Regions from separate parts of the Homo sapiens genome. Here region 1 is linked to region 2. Evidence: fine-mapped expression QTL. Tissue or cell type: whole blood. Region 2 holds a variant in brackets; the other region holds the start of a gene. All regions are shown on one strand. Distances are from middle to middle.

What was found. PIP is the estimated chance that this variant, and not a neighbour inherited with it, causes the effect.
Region 1: it holds the start of MGMT, and the variant in region 2 is fine-mapped to the expression of MGMT in whole blood (INTERVAL, PIP 0.96).

Annotation. Positions count from the first base shown.
Region 1 is chr10:129,463,424-129,471,528 of GRCh38, forward strand. It overlaps MGMT (O-6-methylguanine-DNA methyltransferase), which reads left to right and starts at 3,818. Exons shown (of 5, transcript NM_002412.5): 1 at 3,818-3,873. RefSeq lists silencers at 3,458-3,897, 3,918-4,117 and an enhancer at 3,684-4,606.
Region 2 is chr10:129,653,420-129,661,524 of GRCh38, forward strand. The region is part of intron 2 of MGMT (O-6-methylguanine-DNA methyltransferase); the gene reads left to right. Among named protein-coding and RNA genes, the nearest start is that of MIR4297, 190 kb to the right of the region's middle. The variant T/C (reference allele first, on the strand shown) is at 4,422.

The sequences.
Region 1 (8,105 bases), 190 kb before region 2:
GCTAAGGAGCCCCTCCTGTTTTAGTTGCACCTCCATCCCCTTTCTCCACCCTGCACCATTCCCTTACCCTCTATGTGAGGCAAAGCCTGAAGTCCCTCCTTCCCGCCCTCTCTCCTGCCCACTAGTAGATTACACTCCCTGCTGCAGTTACACCATGATGCCTCTGCCATGCTGACAACTAGTGTCACACAGGAGCGTAATCAGAAGCACCTGGCATTCAACCCCGGTACCGATGGCCCCCACCTTTTCATTTCAGGCTTCTTCCTCCAGAGTGCTTGAGGCTCCCTGGCCTCCTGGCCTCTCCCAGGTCCAAGGCGCTGACTCCAGCTCTTGGCTCCAACATTTACAGGAACACTGGGACTAAGAAAATCAATTGTGTTAATCAGCAAAACCCTCCACTTGAGATGCTATCCTAAAAGCAAACTATATGTAAAACACTTAACGTGGGGAGCTCTGTAATATGTTTCTTTTGTTACACGACCATCACACATTTGTCCGGAGTTTGGGGCTTTCAAACCACATAAGGTTTTATGTGATCGTTATAAAATCCCTTCATTTCCCAAAGGTAGGGTAGTAAGGATTAAGTTTGACTACTGAAGGCAGCTTTGTTGTAAGTGGTCTCTAATGTCACAAAAGTAGCTTGGGAAGACAGGCTTATTAAACAAATTTCTTGGGTTGCAAATCATTAGAAGCAATCGCATGTCATGTTCATTTGCTTAACCCGAAAGGTATCCATTTGGATGTTTAAAGAAACTATGCAGATTAACATTGTTCCCAGTGCCCACAAGAAAGCTGGCTGATCTTAAAGGAAATCCAGGGAGCTCCTTGAGGAAGTCGGACTGCAGTTGAGCATACCCTTTTGTGGTTTTCCCACCTCTTTTGTAAAAAGTTCTTCATAGGAATCTGTGTCTGGAGGAAAAGGGGTTGTGATTTGTTAATCTGAAGATGGGAGACCTCAAAGGAATCTCACCCAACCAGTCCTGCACTGTCATCCTATGAACAGAGAAGTCAGGTGGTTGCTCAGTGAGGGGCAGGGCTGGCACCACATCCGAGCCTCCCTGTCCTGTGTTCCTTACTCTTCAGTGGACCCGGCGACCTCCCGGCTTTGGAGCCATCCTGTGTTCCTTTAACAGTAGGACGAACACACAGGCGATGATGAGATTGTAATGGGACAAGGGGGAGAGGCGTGGGGAGCTCTTGATGAAAACTTGGGTTTTTGAAATTACCATGATGAAGGGAGGAGCTTGCACCAGCAGGTGTAAGGAGTGTGAGTTTGAGTTCTGCTCATCAGACAGCCTAAGCAGTCACATCCTTGAATCCTGGTCTTTTGCAGGCCAGTCCTTGGTCAGGTGGTGGCCTTTTTCCTCTTTCCCCTCTGCACTGAGACCCTTATTTGGCTCCTGATCCTGGAGCCCCTGACACAGTCCTTACCACTGAAGTAGCTGTGGCCCTTCACATAGTTCTTCCCACCACGCCAGCAAGGGGACTGAGTTCTTTCAGTACAGCCAGGGCCAGGTCCACACATCTCCCTGGGAAGCCAGCACTTTCTCTCGTGGACCGCCTCCCCATTCCCACAGGGCCCTCCTAAAGGGCCTTTGGATGACCACATTGGCCTTTCTTTCCTAGGGTGGGGAATTAGAGATGCTAAGACTGGCCAGTCTCTTTTTCTTAAGAGTTTAGGGATTCGTCTTAAAATATTATTCAGATAAACGTATGAGTCATGTGTTAACTGCAAAACTACTTAACAGCACACTTGTTAGAATATCAGTCGGCACTCTGATTCCATTTCGGCATTGTTTTTCCTTTGGTTCTATTAAGATCCCGGTTCTAACTGGGTCCTGGTAGTAACAGGCTGTAAGTGGCCAGGTGTATAGCATTATTTCTTAGTAGTGTGGTGTGGTGCTGGTGGTTTATTTTCCCTATGCACACATGCCCTAATATGGAAGGATAGTTTGTACACACGTAGGGTACGTTATCATGAGACTCCTTTACAGAGTATGAAACTGAGGATTAGAGAAGTCAGACGAGTTTCCCGAAGTCTTATAGAAGGCTAATGGAAAAAACCAGAGCCAAGGGCAAACATGTTTCATCTGTCCTTCCACATTAGTTTAAATGTGAATGGCTGCTTGGAACACAGTGTTGAGAAGGATTCCGAGGCTGTGTCCAGGTTCAGTGGGGAAAAAGTGCCTTGATTTGACCATTATATCGTGTACTCAGGGCCTAGTTTATTTCCCACAAGCAGCTATTTAAAACATGTCTCATCCAAGGCAGGGTCGGGGTGGGGAACCTCAGAGGATCAATGATGCAGCCTGTATTGTCACCAGGGCTCATCCCAAAGCAAATCCTGCTGAAGTTCTCCTCTGAACAACCCTTATCACTCATGCTAATATGTTGGATCCTGCAAGTCACAAATACGAAGGTATGAGCATTGGCCGAATCCCAACAGGGAAACTTCACCGGGAAGGTGAAGACCCCTTTCCATTAAGATAACAAACAGAACCTAGAAGGCCCGTAGCATGGTGGCTTAGAACATGTGGGCCTTGGATGGGATCCTGCCAAGGGGTGTGTGACCTCTCCGAAGCCTCCAGGGATGATACTACTCCCTGGGGTGCTTATGCCAACCACGTTAGAGACAATGGTTTCTGTACCCATTGCCTGGGGCTGCCATAATAAAGTGCCACACACTGAGTGGCTTAAAACAACAGAAACCTATTGTCTCACACTTCCGGGGGCCAGAAGTTTGAAACCCAGGTGTGTTAGGATCCTGCTCCCTCTGAAGGCTCCAGGGAAGAGTGTCCTCTGCTCCCTCCGAAGGCTCCAGGGAAGGGTCTGTCCTCTTAGGCTTCTGGTGGCTTGCAGGTGCAGCCCTCCAATCCTCCTCCCCAAGCGGCCTTCTGCCTATAAGGACACGAGTCATACTGGATGAGGGGCCCACTAATTGATGGCTTCTGTAAAGTCCCCATCTCCAAATAAGGTCACATTGTGAGGTACTGGGAGTTAGGACTCCAACATAGCTTCTCTGGTGGACACAATTCAACTCCTAATAACGTCCACACAACCCCAAGCAGGGCCTGGCACCCTGTGTGCTCTCTGGAGAGCGGCTGAGTCAGGCTCTGGCAGTGTCTAGGCCATCGGTGACTGCAGCCCCTGGACGGCATCGCCCACCACAGGCCCTGGAGGCTGCCCCCACGGCCCCCTGACAGGGTCTCTGCTGGTCTGGGGGTCCCTGACTAGGGGAGCGGCACCAGGAGGGGAGAGACTCGCGCTCCGGGCTCAGCGTAGCCGCCCCGAGCAGGACCGGGATTCTCACTAAGCGGGCGCCGTCCTACGACCCCCGCGCGCTTTCAGGACCACTCGGGCACGTGGCAGGTCGCTTGCACGCCCGCGGACTATCCCTGTGACAGGAAAAGGTACGGGCCATTTGGCAAACTAAGGCACAGAGCCTCAGGCGGAAGCTGGGAAGGCGCCGCCCGGCTTGTACCGGCCGAAGGGCCATCCGGGTCAGGCGCACAGGGCAGCGGCGCTGCCGGAGGACCAGGGCCGGCGTGCCGGCGTCCAGCGAGGATGCGCAGACTGCCTCAGGCCCGGCGCCGCCGCACAGGGCATGCGCCGACCCGGTCGGGCGGGAACACCCCGCCCCTCCCGGGCTCCGCCCCAGCTCCGCCCCCGCGCGCCCCGGCCCCGCCCCCGCGCGCTCTCTTGCTTTTCTCAGGTCCTCGGCTCCGCCCCGCTCTAGACCCCGCCCCACGCCGCCATCCCCGTGCCCCTCGGCCCCGCCCCCGCGCCCCGGATATGCTGGGACAGCCCGCGCCCCTAGAACGCTTTGCGTCCCGACGCCCGCAGGTCCTCGCGGTGCGCACCGTTTGCGACTTGGTGAGTGTCTGGGTCGCCTCGCTCCCGGAAGAGTGCGGAGCTCTCCCTCGGGACGGTGGCAGCCTCGAGTGGTCCTGCAGGCGCCCTCACTTCGCCGTCGGGTGTGGGGCCGCCCTGACCCCCACCCATCCCGGGCGAGCTCCAGGTGCGCCCCAAGTGCCTCCCAGGTGTTGCCCAGCCTTTCCCCGGGCCTGGGGTTCCTGGACTAGGCTGCGCTGCAGTGACTGTGGACTGGCGTGTGGCGGGGGTCGTGGCAGCCCCTGCCTTACCTCTAGGTGCCAGCCCCAGGCCCGGGCCCCGGGTTCTTCCTACCCTTCCATGCTGCCAGCTTTCCCTCCGCCAGCTGCTCCAGGAAGCTTCCAGAAGCCCCTGCGCGGGCCTTGGCTTGCAGCAACCCTTTAGCATACTTAGGCAGAGTCCCATATTTCCTTCCTGCTGGAGGCCAAGTTCTAGGGGCCTTCTGGTTACTATGGCTGGTGTTTGTGTACATCATACCCTAACTGTATTCATCAACACTTAGAGTAAGCAAGGCTCGCTGGAGAGCCACACACACTGGGCACCGTAATGTCGGTTATAACACCGCAGAGGAGTTCTGAACTATGTATTTCGCACTCCTGGGTTCATCATCTCCTGAAATCTCAGGGTGGTGTTTGCTCTCAGTTGCTTCAGCTGAGTAGCTGGCTTTCTGTCCTGGAAAGCAGACTTTGTACATGTGTGTGCAACCTATGCCTGCTGAGATCATCATCAGACAGGGAAGCGGCTTGGTCCAGAGAGCTGTTCTCAGTAGAATGTTAAGCACAGAGAGCTGAGAATTAGACTGGTTATTTACATAGACATCCAAATAGAAACCTATAGAGTATCTGTTAAGTCAGGCTCTCCCGTCATCTCCCCCATCCCTGGGCAGGTGTCTAGGAGATGGTTTTGTTATTTTCAGGGCCCTCTCAATGGCTAAAACACTCTGGGAGATGAACAAGATTTTAAAAACCCAAAGCTTAGCGCACCTGGTGGGTGGGGGTGTGAAAACTTTGAAGGAAACCGCGTCAAGAGCCTGGCTGATTGTTAATATCACGTTAACTCAGAGGGCCAGGATACTTGCCCAGACCCGGAGTCTGCCTGCAAGTAGCAGAGGAGAGCTGGCCTTGCTCTGCCGCGTGTCTTTCTTCCTGGGCCCTCTGTCTCGGGTTGGAATTTGAATAGTGGAGTAGTGTCTGCCACAGTCAGGGGCCTGGATGAAGTAGACCACCAGTACGGAGCTATACTCAGGTACTTTTCAATGTATATATCTTCATTAAAAAAAAAAAATCTGGGCCAGGCACAGTGGGTCACGCCTGTAATCTCAGCACTTTGGGAGGCCGAGGTGGGTGGATCACCTGAAGTCAGGAGTTTGAGACCAGCCTGGCCAACATGGTGAAACCCAGTTTCTACTAAAAACACAAAAATTATCCAGGCGTGGTGGTGCATGCTGGTAATCCCAGTTACTTGGGAGACTGAGGCAGGAGAATTGCTTGAACCTGGGAGGCGGAGGTTGCAGTGAGCCGAGATTGCGCCATTGCACTCCAACCTGGGCGACGAGAGTGAAACTGTCCTGAAGGGGAAACAAAAAAATCTGTATCAAAATAAGGATTTAACTAATAGTATTAGGCACTACTTTAAAAAGGCTTTGCTGTTAGTAAGGTTGAAAGAAATAGAGCCCTAGGTATACATTGGGTAGCACCTTGTTCAGCTGCTCAGATTCTTGAACCTTGTTGAGGTCTTACTTTGATATCACCTGGGCCTTACTTTTCGTTGTTTGGGTTTCCTCCCCAGGTGTCTCAATCAGGGCCTCCTCTGTCCTTTTGCAGGGAAGAAGGGGGTAGGAAGGGCCTGAAAAAGAACTTGCCTTCCCCATTGCCCCCTCAGAGTTTGTTCCTCTCCAGTCCTCTTCCCACCCTTTCTTAGGACACCAAAACCCTGACTCTTTCAGTATTTTATAATAAAATAAAGTTACTAAATTGTCTGTTCTGTTTTGCAGAGGACACACATTTAGGAGCCAGTGATTCAGACCTTCCATTTTTCTTTTTGGTGCTAATGCTCTTTTCAGTATATTCTCTTTGATAGAAAAAAAATGGAGGCAAAACTGAATTTTCTGCATTATCTTTTCCTTTAGCATTATTCTTGTTTCTGCACTTCATTCTGACCCCCTTCCCCAGCATAAAGTTCCATGTCCAGATCCACTTGCCCTGAGATTTTTGACTTCCGTTTGGGACTCTAGTCCCTCCAGGGGACACATTGAGCCTCCCAGACCCTGCAGGGCCCTGTGCTCATTCGGCTCTTGGGCTGTTGCTACGGTCCTTCCTGACCCTCTGTTTCCTGGGACAAGTAGTTTTTAATGCAGCTACTTTCTGAAAGAGCTGGGGTCTTACCGCAGAATATTATTTTATTATTTTTAGAGACAAGGTCTTGGTCTTTCGCCCAGGCTGGAGTGCAGTGGTGAGATCATAGCTCCCTGCAGCCTCAAGCTCCTGGGCTCAAGCGAACCTCCTGCTTTGACCTCCCAAGTACCAGGGACTACAGGTGTGCGCCACCATACCTGGCTAATTGTTGTTGTTGTTGTTTTTAGAGGCCAGGGTCTCCGTATGTTGCCTAGGGTGGTCTCGAACTCCTGGACTCAAGTGATCTTCCCTCCTAGGCCTCCCAAAGTGCTGGAATTATAGGCATGAGCCACCATGCCTGGCCTCGCAGGATATTATTTAAACGAAACCTGAAGGATTTAAAATCAGAGAAGACACATAAACCATCACCTGACTGTGGGGTGAGAGTGGTCTTTATATAGACACTCATGATGCACAAGCCAGCCCTTCGCCCCACTCTTGTTTTGAAGTGAAAGGATTTATATGGGAGGGAGGAGGTTTGAGCTGTGCAGGAGGGTCCTTGGTTGGCATGAGGATTTTGTGAACCTACGCTGTTAGCTCTGCAGGCCTGTCTTGGACATAGGTAAGTAGAAGTTGGAGACCTTGTGTTGTGGACCAAATGTTGCAAGATGTGTGTTCTGTGGCTTTTCATTAACTGCTGCATATCTGCTGGTTGGTGGACATAGTCTAGTTTTCTTTTGACTTAAAAAAATTAACAGTACAGCTTATATCGGAGGGCTGCATAGTTTGGGGGAAACTAATGAATATAGTATGGAATGTAATGAATGACTGACTTCTTCATAGAGCTATTGAAGTGATTTATGAAGAGGAAGAAATCATTTTTGTGACTTTGTTGATCTTTGAAGTATTAGAGTGGCTTTGGCAGGTGTGGATCACCCGGAAAGGAATCAAACACTGAGTCCTGCCAAGGTGCTCGGTCCCGGCAGCAAAGCCAGTCCTCAGCAGCCTGCGCTCCCGAAGCTCCTCCAGCTAAGTAACTGAATAGGCCGCCCTGGGAGCTGCCCATGCGGATGCTCTGAATGGTGAAACTTGGTTTTGACACCACAAGTTGTTTTCAGTTAAATCAGTGGCTCAGCAGCAGAGCAGGGTTCTCCAAGGAGGCCTCGTGTCCCCTTCACCCCACCTGGAGGTAGCTGTTCTAAAACCAGTAAAAAATTCTACAAAAACATTTTCTTAGGGTTGTTAAATTAGTCATAGTGTGTGTAACCATGAAAGGAATGGTGAGAGTGCAATAAATGCCTGGTGTGTTCACTCTCCTACTCCTAAAAGTTTCTTGGTAGAATAATTTCCTACCTGTGATGCTTGCGAAGTCAGCAGAGGCTCCCACCCAGCCCTGCCGCCCATTCCCAGAAGTCTGGGCTGGGGGACACCGAATGGATAGTCCACCAGCGGCGTGGCTTGTGAAAGGAGGTACTTGTTAAATCTATGTGTTTTTATTATAGACATCGTTCTGCCAGTCGCAATAATGTGTTTATGGACATTTTTCTGCAAGCACAGCGCGGGTGGCAGTTTTTACTGACAAATTGAGTCATATGCATAGAGGTTTAGAAAGCGCTTGCCTTATTGACGGATCAGGCAATTCTGGCACGGGATGTTCAGAGATATTTAGGTGGGTGAAGAGAGTGAATGAATCTCAGGGCAGAGAAGGAGATGGGGCATTATATGTTGAAATGCAATAAATAATCGCTAGTTATTTATCATTTGTTTTTAAACTTTTAGCTACATTGTACTTCCCAGTCAAGAGGACTCCGGTGGGCAGCCGGGGATATCATGTTCAGGTGTCTCTCCTGCTTGTGTGGGGTAAGAGCCACTACTGGAATG
Region 2 (8,105 bases):
CCATTTGAGGTGATCCTGTAATTGCCATGTGTGTGTATTACTAATCAAGGCTGCTCCCTCTACAAAACACTGAGTGGCCCCCAGGCCGAGGTGCTGCAGAGATGGCCCGTGTGGGAGGGGTAACGCCTGCAAACCCGACCCTGATCACCAATGGAGTGGCCTCACGTGGCCTCCCTGATGGTGGCCCTTGACTGTGGTCAGCACTGGACTGGCCCACCCTATGAGATGTCTCAGGCAGCTTGCAAGATTACATCATGTGATGGCCAATGCTTCTGCTAAACAAGAGGCAGGGAGCCGAATGGACAGGCCTCAGGAAGCACAGCGTGGTGGCCGTCACAGCCTTCTGGGAAGGCTATTTCTGCATCACTGAGGCCCCACAGCCCAGGGTGTTTAGGATGAAGGGCACAGATTTCCAGATGTGAAGAGTGTCAGGTGGGCTAGGGGCAGGAGAAGCATGAGGAGGACCCTGTGCTGGGGATGAGAGGAGAGCGGCCCTGCAGTCAAGGGGCCAGGTGGAGCCACCTTTGGGGATGCGGGGAGAACTTGGTGGCCCTCAGAGACCCCTGCTTGGAGACCCCACCTCCCCCTTGACAAGACTGCGGCCTGTGCTGGGCACAGCTGGCCCAGAGCGAGGGCCACACCCTACTACTGCACCCTCCACGCCTGTCTGTCCTTGCCCACCTCGGTGGCTGCCTCGCCGACCCCCGCCTTGCAGCTGGAGTAGCTGTGCTGATAAAGATGCAGGTGGGAAGCTGGATGGTGAGGTAGCCCATCTGTGGTTTGGGATCCGAGAAGACGGCAAGACCTCAGCTTCATGAGAAGAGAGACCTGAAGATCCATGCTGGGGAAGGGCGAGGATGGAAAGGGGTGCAGGGCGTGGAGCAGGTGCCCAGGTCGGGTACAGAGACAGGCCTGGGACCTGGAGGACCTGCACGCGGGGTCGGGCACCTGCCACACTCTCCCATGTCTTTGAAGCCTCTTGTGGTAGAAGAGAAGGTGCTCATATTTTACCTTCTGTGCCTTAGTATGTAGTTTGGTATTGTGTTAAGTGGACAGAAATCACATACCCCTGCTCACTCTGAGCCTGCATCCTTTGACCGTCACTGTGAACCTCAGATCGAGACACCAGCCTCAGCGGGGGCTGAGATAGGGCATTCCCCATTCCCACTGGCTGCTTGGAGGGCTGTGAGGGACCTGCTGCCTGGAGCACAGGGCCTGTATGGGTGGGTAAGTCCCTGGAGAGACAGGAGGAGGCAGGGGTGTGCAAGCCTCTTGAGGTATGAGGAAGGTGGCCGGGGTCTCGGGAAGCTTGTCTGGCCCTGGCAGGCAGGACAAGGGCCCCCTCCTGCCCATACCTCTACCTTAGGCCCCTTGTCATGACACGTGATACCTGAGGGTGGGGGGCTGTATGGGCATTTGGAATGTGACGGCACAAGCCACAGTGGGTCACTTGTTTCTACAAATGCCTGAGAAGAAAACTATTCTTCTAACTCAGAGAAGTGGGATTTCCCACTGAAAATCAGTGGAAATCACTTATAATGGTCTTTGCAAATTCCTTGCATCTAAGGAAGTGCCTGTGGAGCAGCAGTGGGAGGAAACCATTCAGGCTCGATGGAGAGGGTGACCGCTGCACCCTCATCCCTGGTGTCAGCACACTACCGAGGTGCTCCTGGTTTAAGGACGTTTGTGCACCCACCCGGAGGTATGCATGGAAAGAAAGCACTGCAGCCATTCCCCAGCCAGTGTAGGGGTGGGACACAGTCCCGTGGGGGCCCCGCGGAGGGCCTGGGCAGATGCAGGGCTGCGCACTGCCGTGGTTTCCTGTGTGTCTGCCAGGAGTGAAGACCTGAGCAGCCTCACTGGCCTGGTGTGGAGGGGCCGCCTCCGAGCATGCGGAGAAGTGGTTTGCATGGCTGGAAGTCAATGTTTATCTGTCTTTAGACTCAGTTGAAGACACATTTCTTTCACACATTACCATTTTTAAAACCCATTAAGGTCTGATTTTCCAAGGCGCTGACCCTGACGCTTCTAGAGGGCCTCATCCCGGAAGCTGGTGGGGAGAGCAGGAAAATCTTCCCCGTTGAGTTTTAAACGTCCAGACCTTTGTTGTCTCCTTGTGACCCTTGCAGGAGAGCTCTCGTGGCTTCTGTGCATGTTCGTGTGTGACTCGCCCGGCTGAGGGACTGGCATAAACAAACAGGGATGAGTTTGTAAAACACTTTGTAATCCCTTGAAAAGGAGAAAAATATAAATGAAAATCACTGTTTAACAGTGAAGGCAGGAAGGGAGCTGTTCCTCAGTATAGCTGTGGGTTGTCGTTACGTGAGCAGGAGGGAATTTCACTTTGGATGGATTTGGATTTTCTCTTCATGCTCATGCTCTCTAAATCTTGCAAAAGCACATGGTAAACACACAGCGCATGTGTTTCTGGAGGAAACGCACAGTGTCCATATAGAGCAGGCACTGATTTTGCACTGAAAGAACGTGGATGAGAAGTTCCACGTGTTTAAATAAACTGGCAACAGCGGTCCCAGATAGCTTAGCCGGGCAGCAGTCAGAGGTGCCCTGGCCTGGGGACTGAGCTAAGGTCTCAGAAGGGTCAGCTAGCCAAGCTCTTCACCGGACAACCCCTGAATTAACCAGACACATCACAGATGCAGACTGTTGATTCCAGGGAACCCAGGTGAAAGGCCAAGGAGAGGTGAGGTAGTTGGTGCGGTGCCCCTCCTGGAGTCCCTTCAGGACTATGGCACTACAGTTCTATGTAAGCTGTCACCCAGGACTCATCTTCAGTGGAGTCTGGACTGCAGTCGGGAGGTGACAAACATCCATGGCATGAGGGCAGCAAGAGCCCCTCTCTTGGGAACCAGTTGTGGCCACTATCTGCCCAGTGAACATGGGCTTCAGCCCCGAGCATGGGAGGGCTCCTGGTTGGGCATCTCCCTGGGAGTTCCTTGGTACTGCCTCCTGCAGGGTGAGGAGGGGTGGGGCCTACTTCCAGGCCTCTGGAAGCAGCATCGGCATGTCCTTTCTGGTGTGAACTCCAAATATCTGAGATGGTCTCAGTTAATTTAGAAAGTTTATTTTGCCAAGATTAAGGACATGCGCCTGTGACCCAGCCTCAGGAGGTCCTGATGACACGTGCCCCAGGTGGTCGGGGCACCGCTTGGTTTTATAGATTTTAGAGAGACATGATACATCAATTAATATATGTAAGAAGTACATTGGTTCTGTCCAGAAAGGCAGGGACAACTCGAAGCAGGGAAGGGGCTTCCAGGTCACAGGTAGGTGAGAGTCAAGTGGTTGCACCGAGTTTCTGATAAGCCTCTCCAAAGGAGGCAATCAGAGATGTCTTTCTCTCTGTGAGCAGAGGGATGACTGAATACAACGGGAGGCAGGTTGGCCCTGAGCAGTTTCCAGCTTGACTTTCCCCTTTAGATTAGTAATTTGGGGGCCCCAAGGTTCTCCTTTCATGCTGGGAGGAGGGTTTTTCCACACGTCTCAGACCCAACTCTCGGGCTTCTTAACCCAAAAGAACTTCCACGCAGAAGGCAGCGAAAATAGTGCACTTCATTTTCTAAGACATCTAAAGCTGCCACAATGACTGTGAGTTAGGTGAGCTCTATGAATTAGGCTAGGGATTTGCAACCACTTAGCAAGTTCTAAGTAACTGTAAAAGATCCCATAGACTGCAAATTGTGTTTCATTTGGGGACAGATACCCTGTCTTGGGGATTTAAGTGTGTTTACCTGCCCAGAGTTGACACAGACGACTGTCCCTTAGCTTCCTTTCCTCATGCTGGTTTTAAGTGCTTCGAATCGGGATTTTCCTACCCATCTGATGCATTCCATTGAAAATTCAGGAATACACATGTATGTGACTGTTTATTGGCAAGTAATTGTGAAATAGGCCAGAAATCTACCAGCTTCCTTTAATTAATGTAACAAATACTTAGCAAGGACCTCCTGCATTCTAGGGATTGTGGGGGTGGGGGGGGGAGCAACAAACAAAACAGATAAACCCTGCCCTGAGGCGCCCCTTGTCTTGTCTGGGGGTGGAGGTGGGGCAGGCGTGAGACAGAAGAAACAGGTAAAATACAGTTCAAAGTCAGGTGCTGGTCAGTGTCTTGGAGAATTCTAAAGCAGGGAGGAGGGATGGGGTGAGTTTTAAATGTGGTGACTGCTGAAGAAATGGCCTCTGACAGCCTGGAGGAGGAGCTGGAGCTGGGGGGGGGACAGGCTGGCCAGCTCCTCCAACACACACACACACACACACACACACACACACGCACACACACACACACACACACCCCCTCTCCCCCAAGGACCCACAAGGACTGCGGCCTCTTAGCGTGTGTGGAGTCATCACACTGACCCTTAGCAGTGTGGCCTGACTTCATGAGGCCCCCGTTGTCATGGAGA[T/C]GCTGGGAATGGGAGGATTTGCCACCCTCCAGTGAGGAGCCCCCATCCCATGAGTGCAAAGCCTGAACCGGCCCTTCCCTAATTGGCACCTCTATCCTATTTTCTTTGGCTGAGGAAATTCTCGTAAATGTATATTTAATGTGGTGTTGAGATTGGTAGTTCTCCCCCATCCCCCAAAGATCATCAAATCTCTGGGGGTCTTTCAAAACCTAAAGGTGATCTCCCTGGTCCTATTATGCTGTTTTGTTTTTGCTTCTTTTCTTTTTCTTGAAAGACCTAATTGTGGAGTTTTTTCCCCCTTCTATGAATCCCAAGTAAGGAACTAAAATGGAAGACGGGCTTCTGGCTCCCGCTGCAGCAGATGGGATAATTCTACAGGTGATTGCCCTGGAGGTCTGCAAGGGAGGGAGAGCGGCACCATTAGACTAACACAGCTCTATTATTGACTAATGACGAACAGCGTCGCCTTGCCTTGCCACCTTAAAACAGACACAGGGATTTGCTACTCTATTTGTTTTATAAAATATGCATTGAGAGCAACACCAAAATGCTGAATGACAGGTGACCCTCAGAGCACGCCTGGTATGCACTGCGTTAGCTTGCCAGTATTTCTTAGAGACTTATTTGATTCTAATTCAGTAGGATTTTTAACCCCAACATTTTGAAATCTTGCTTTGAAAGTCCATGTTATTCCCATTAACGTCAGTGAGTTTTTCACATATCTAAATATCTAATATCATGCTTTGAGAATTGAAGCCCAGCCTGCTCTTTAAAAGCAAGGGAGCTCACCACATCCTGGAGTTCTGCAGTGATTTGACATGTCCTGGAAGAAATTATCTTCGCAAGAAAGTAAGTTTAGTTGATTGAAATGAAATTAACACCACATTTCTGTGTCATAATGTATTAACCTGATTGGCTAGCTGGATTCCAGCCTGTTTACAAACATCCTGAAGCCTAGATGGCCCCTTCCTCAGTGTCCTTAACTGCTGTTCTCGCCCTTAGCTCGCGTGCCCAACCCTAAGGCTGAAAACGCCCCCTGTAGGCTACTGTAAGCTGTAGCATTCAAGGCCTCCCAGGTGTCGCTGTAATTTCTTGTATACATTTTAGCTCCATCTGTGGCATAGGTACCATTCAATGTTATCTTAATACACTAGCTTTGGATTTTGTGGCTGCAACAATAACAAAAAAAAATCCTTGGTTCTGATGACTTCATGTTGTTTCAGAAGATACTCAAGGCCGGGTGCAGTGGCTCACACCTGTAATCCCAACACTTTGGGAGGCCGAGGCAGGTGGATTACCTAAGGTCAGGAGTTCGAGACCAGCCTGGCCAACACAGTGAAACCCCATCTCTACTAAAAATACAAAACTTACCTGGGCATGGTGGTGCACACCCGTAGTCTCAGCTACTCGGGAGGCTGAGGCAGGAGAATTGCTTGAACCTGGGAGGCGGAGGTTGCAGTGAGCCAAGATCGCACCACTGCGCTCCAGCCTGGGTGGCAGAGCGAGACTCCCTGTGTGGAAAAAAAAAAAAAAGATACTCAGATGTAGCTGTCTCTGCCTGGGTTGTTTTCTAAATGCGTTTGGCTGGAGATAGAACAGATCCTGCCTCTATCCACGGCGTAAGGGAGTTAGCTTCATGGCAAGCTCTCTGGAGAACACAGGCCATTGTACCTGCTCATGAGAACAGAAGTGAAAGTCACACAGCATGCATATTAGTTCCGAGGCTACTGGCATTATTATTTAATGATGAGTTAGTGCAAATTGAGGGGTGAGGAAGTAGCATGTACAAAGGCCCTGAAGATGAATGACTGTGTGAAATTTTGAAGAGCAGTTTAGCCCGAAAATATTCCATGAGTAGCTGCCAGGAGAGCTTTTCTGGAACAGTATTAAACTTTAGAAAAAGTGTTCTGACATTTATAGACTGACACGAAAACAGAAGTAAAAGTCTAAATTGAACCAAAGTCCTCCTTAAAGATTGCCTTTGAAATTGAGTAATGGCGGATGCCCAGCACCTGATGTTTGGGCACGGGCGACAGGACGTAGGGTGGTCATCCGAATATCCCTGCCCCACTCCCCAGCTCTCTATGGCATTAGTAGATGCTGGAAGATGAGGCCGTGTTTTCTCTTTCATCACCCGTGCAGTGAAGGATTTGCGTGGTCTTTGGTGCTTTTCTTCTAAATAATGAACAATTATTTCTTGCGACATTTTGGTTTTTTACTGCCAATTCCAACAGCCATTTGTCTTTTCAGAGCTAAGTTTATAACTTCCTCCTTTCTCTCCTGTCACTTTTACCCCATTCTGATTTTTCATCTCCCTGCCAATTGTGGTTTCGTTTCTGAGCACTCATTTATTAATCCTTCTTTTTCATTTCCCAGAACACGTGCTGGTGTAAATCTTTTTGCAGTTAAAGTATTACATTAACCTTTTTGATAGCATGGGGTGGTATCTCGGCGGATGGGCGAGTGCTGTTCGCCTGTGGTCTGTCTCAGGGGTTCTAGTTGGAAGGCGTCCTGCAGCCATTTCTTCAGAGGCTAAGGTGTGGGGGAGCACCTTGGGGAAGAAGAAAACATAGTTTCTGCCCTTACAAAGCTGATACCCCATCAAACTTGAGATTAAAACAGACAAAAAACCCAAGAACCTACAGAGCACTGCAGAGAGGCCTTGGGACCCTCTGACAGAGTCAGTGGGGAGTCGGCTGGGAAGGGCAGCTTTTCTGTCCCAGCAGCCTTGCTTCCTCTTCAGCATGCTGAGGGACATGGAGCCCTCCACCATTATCTGAATTGATTCCATCTTTCTCTCCTGCCTCTGCTGTGGGTTTCCATAATGTGAAATTAATGCATGTGCTTAGGTTGCGGGGGGCCAACCCCTCAGAAATATGCAAAGACTTCAAGGGAGACCTTTTCTTTTCACAAAGAGGAAGATCCCCCACCCCCAACACACACACACACACACACACACGCACACACATGCACAGTTTGCATAGCCGGAGTAGGGAGTATCTCTTTCTGGGGAATGTTCGTATGTCACTGTTGATTTTACATTGTTTTTCCTTTCTTTGACTTGAAAATTTTTAAAGTAACACAAATTTATTATTTTAAAAACTTCAACTCTGGAAGTACAGCCGTAAAATCCTCTTTCCAGAAGCAATCAGTCTTAGTCCTTTGGAATGCAACCTTATAAATCTGTTTCTGTTGTAAATATACTTCCCTGTTCTTACCTGCCTTTACCTGGAGAGTACATAGTATATTCTTTTGTGAGTAGGACTTTAACTTCCTAATATATCATAGGCTTTCCGCAGCTGGTTCTGTATTATGGATTACTGTAATTTATTAACTTTTCCCACTTTGAGTGGAAATTTAGTTTATTTCCAACTTTTTTTTTTTGCTTTTATGGTGTTATGAACATTTGTGTATGTCTGTATTTCTGTGCTGTGTGCAAGTATTTCTGTGGGATAGACGTCTAGGAGAGGAATTGTTTGGCCGAAGGGCATACACATTTAAATGTTCACGGATGCAGCCCAGACCCCCCTCATAAGGCTGTACCAACTCATACTCTCAGCAGTAATAAAGACGCGTCCATTTCTCACACCTCTGCAGAGGATTTCTAAAATGGCTTTTTATTTTTCAAAAAGCTTACATTTGACAACTATTGATGTTGTGCAACTTTCTGTGTTTATTAGCCAA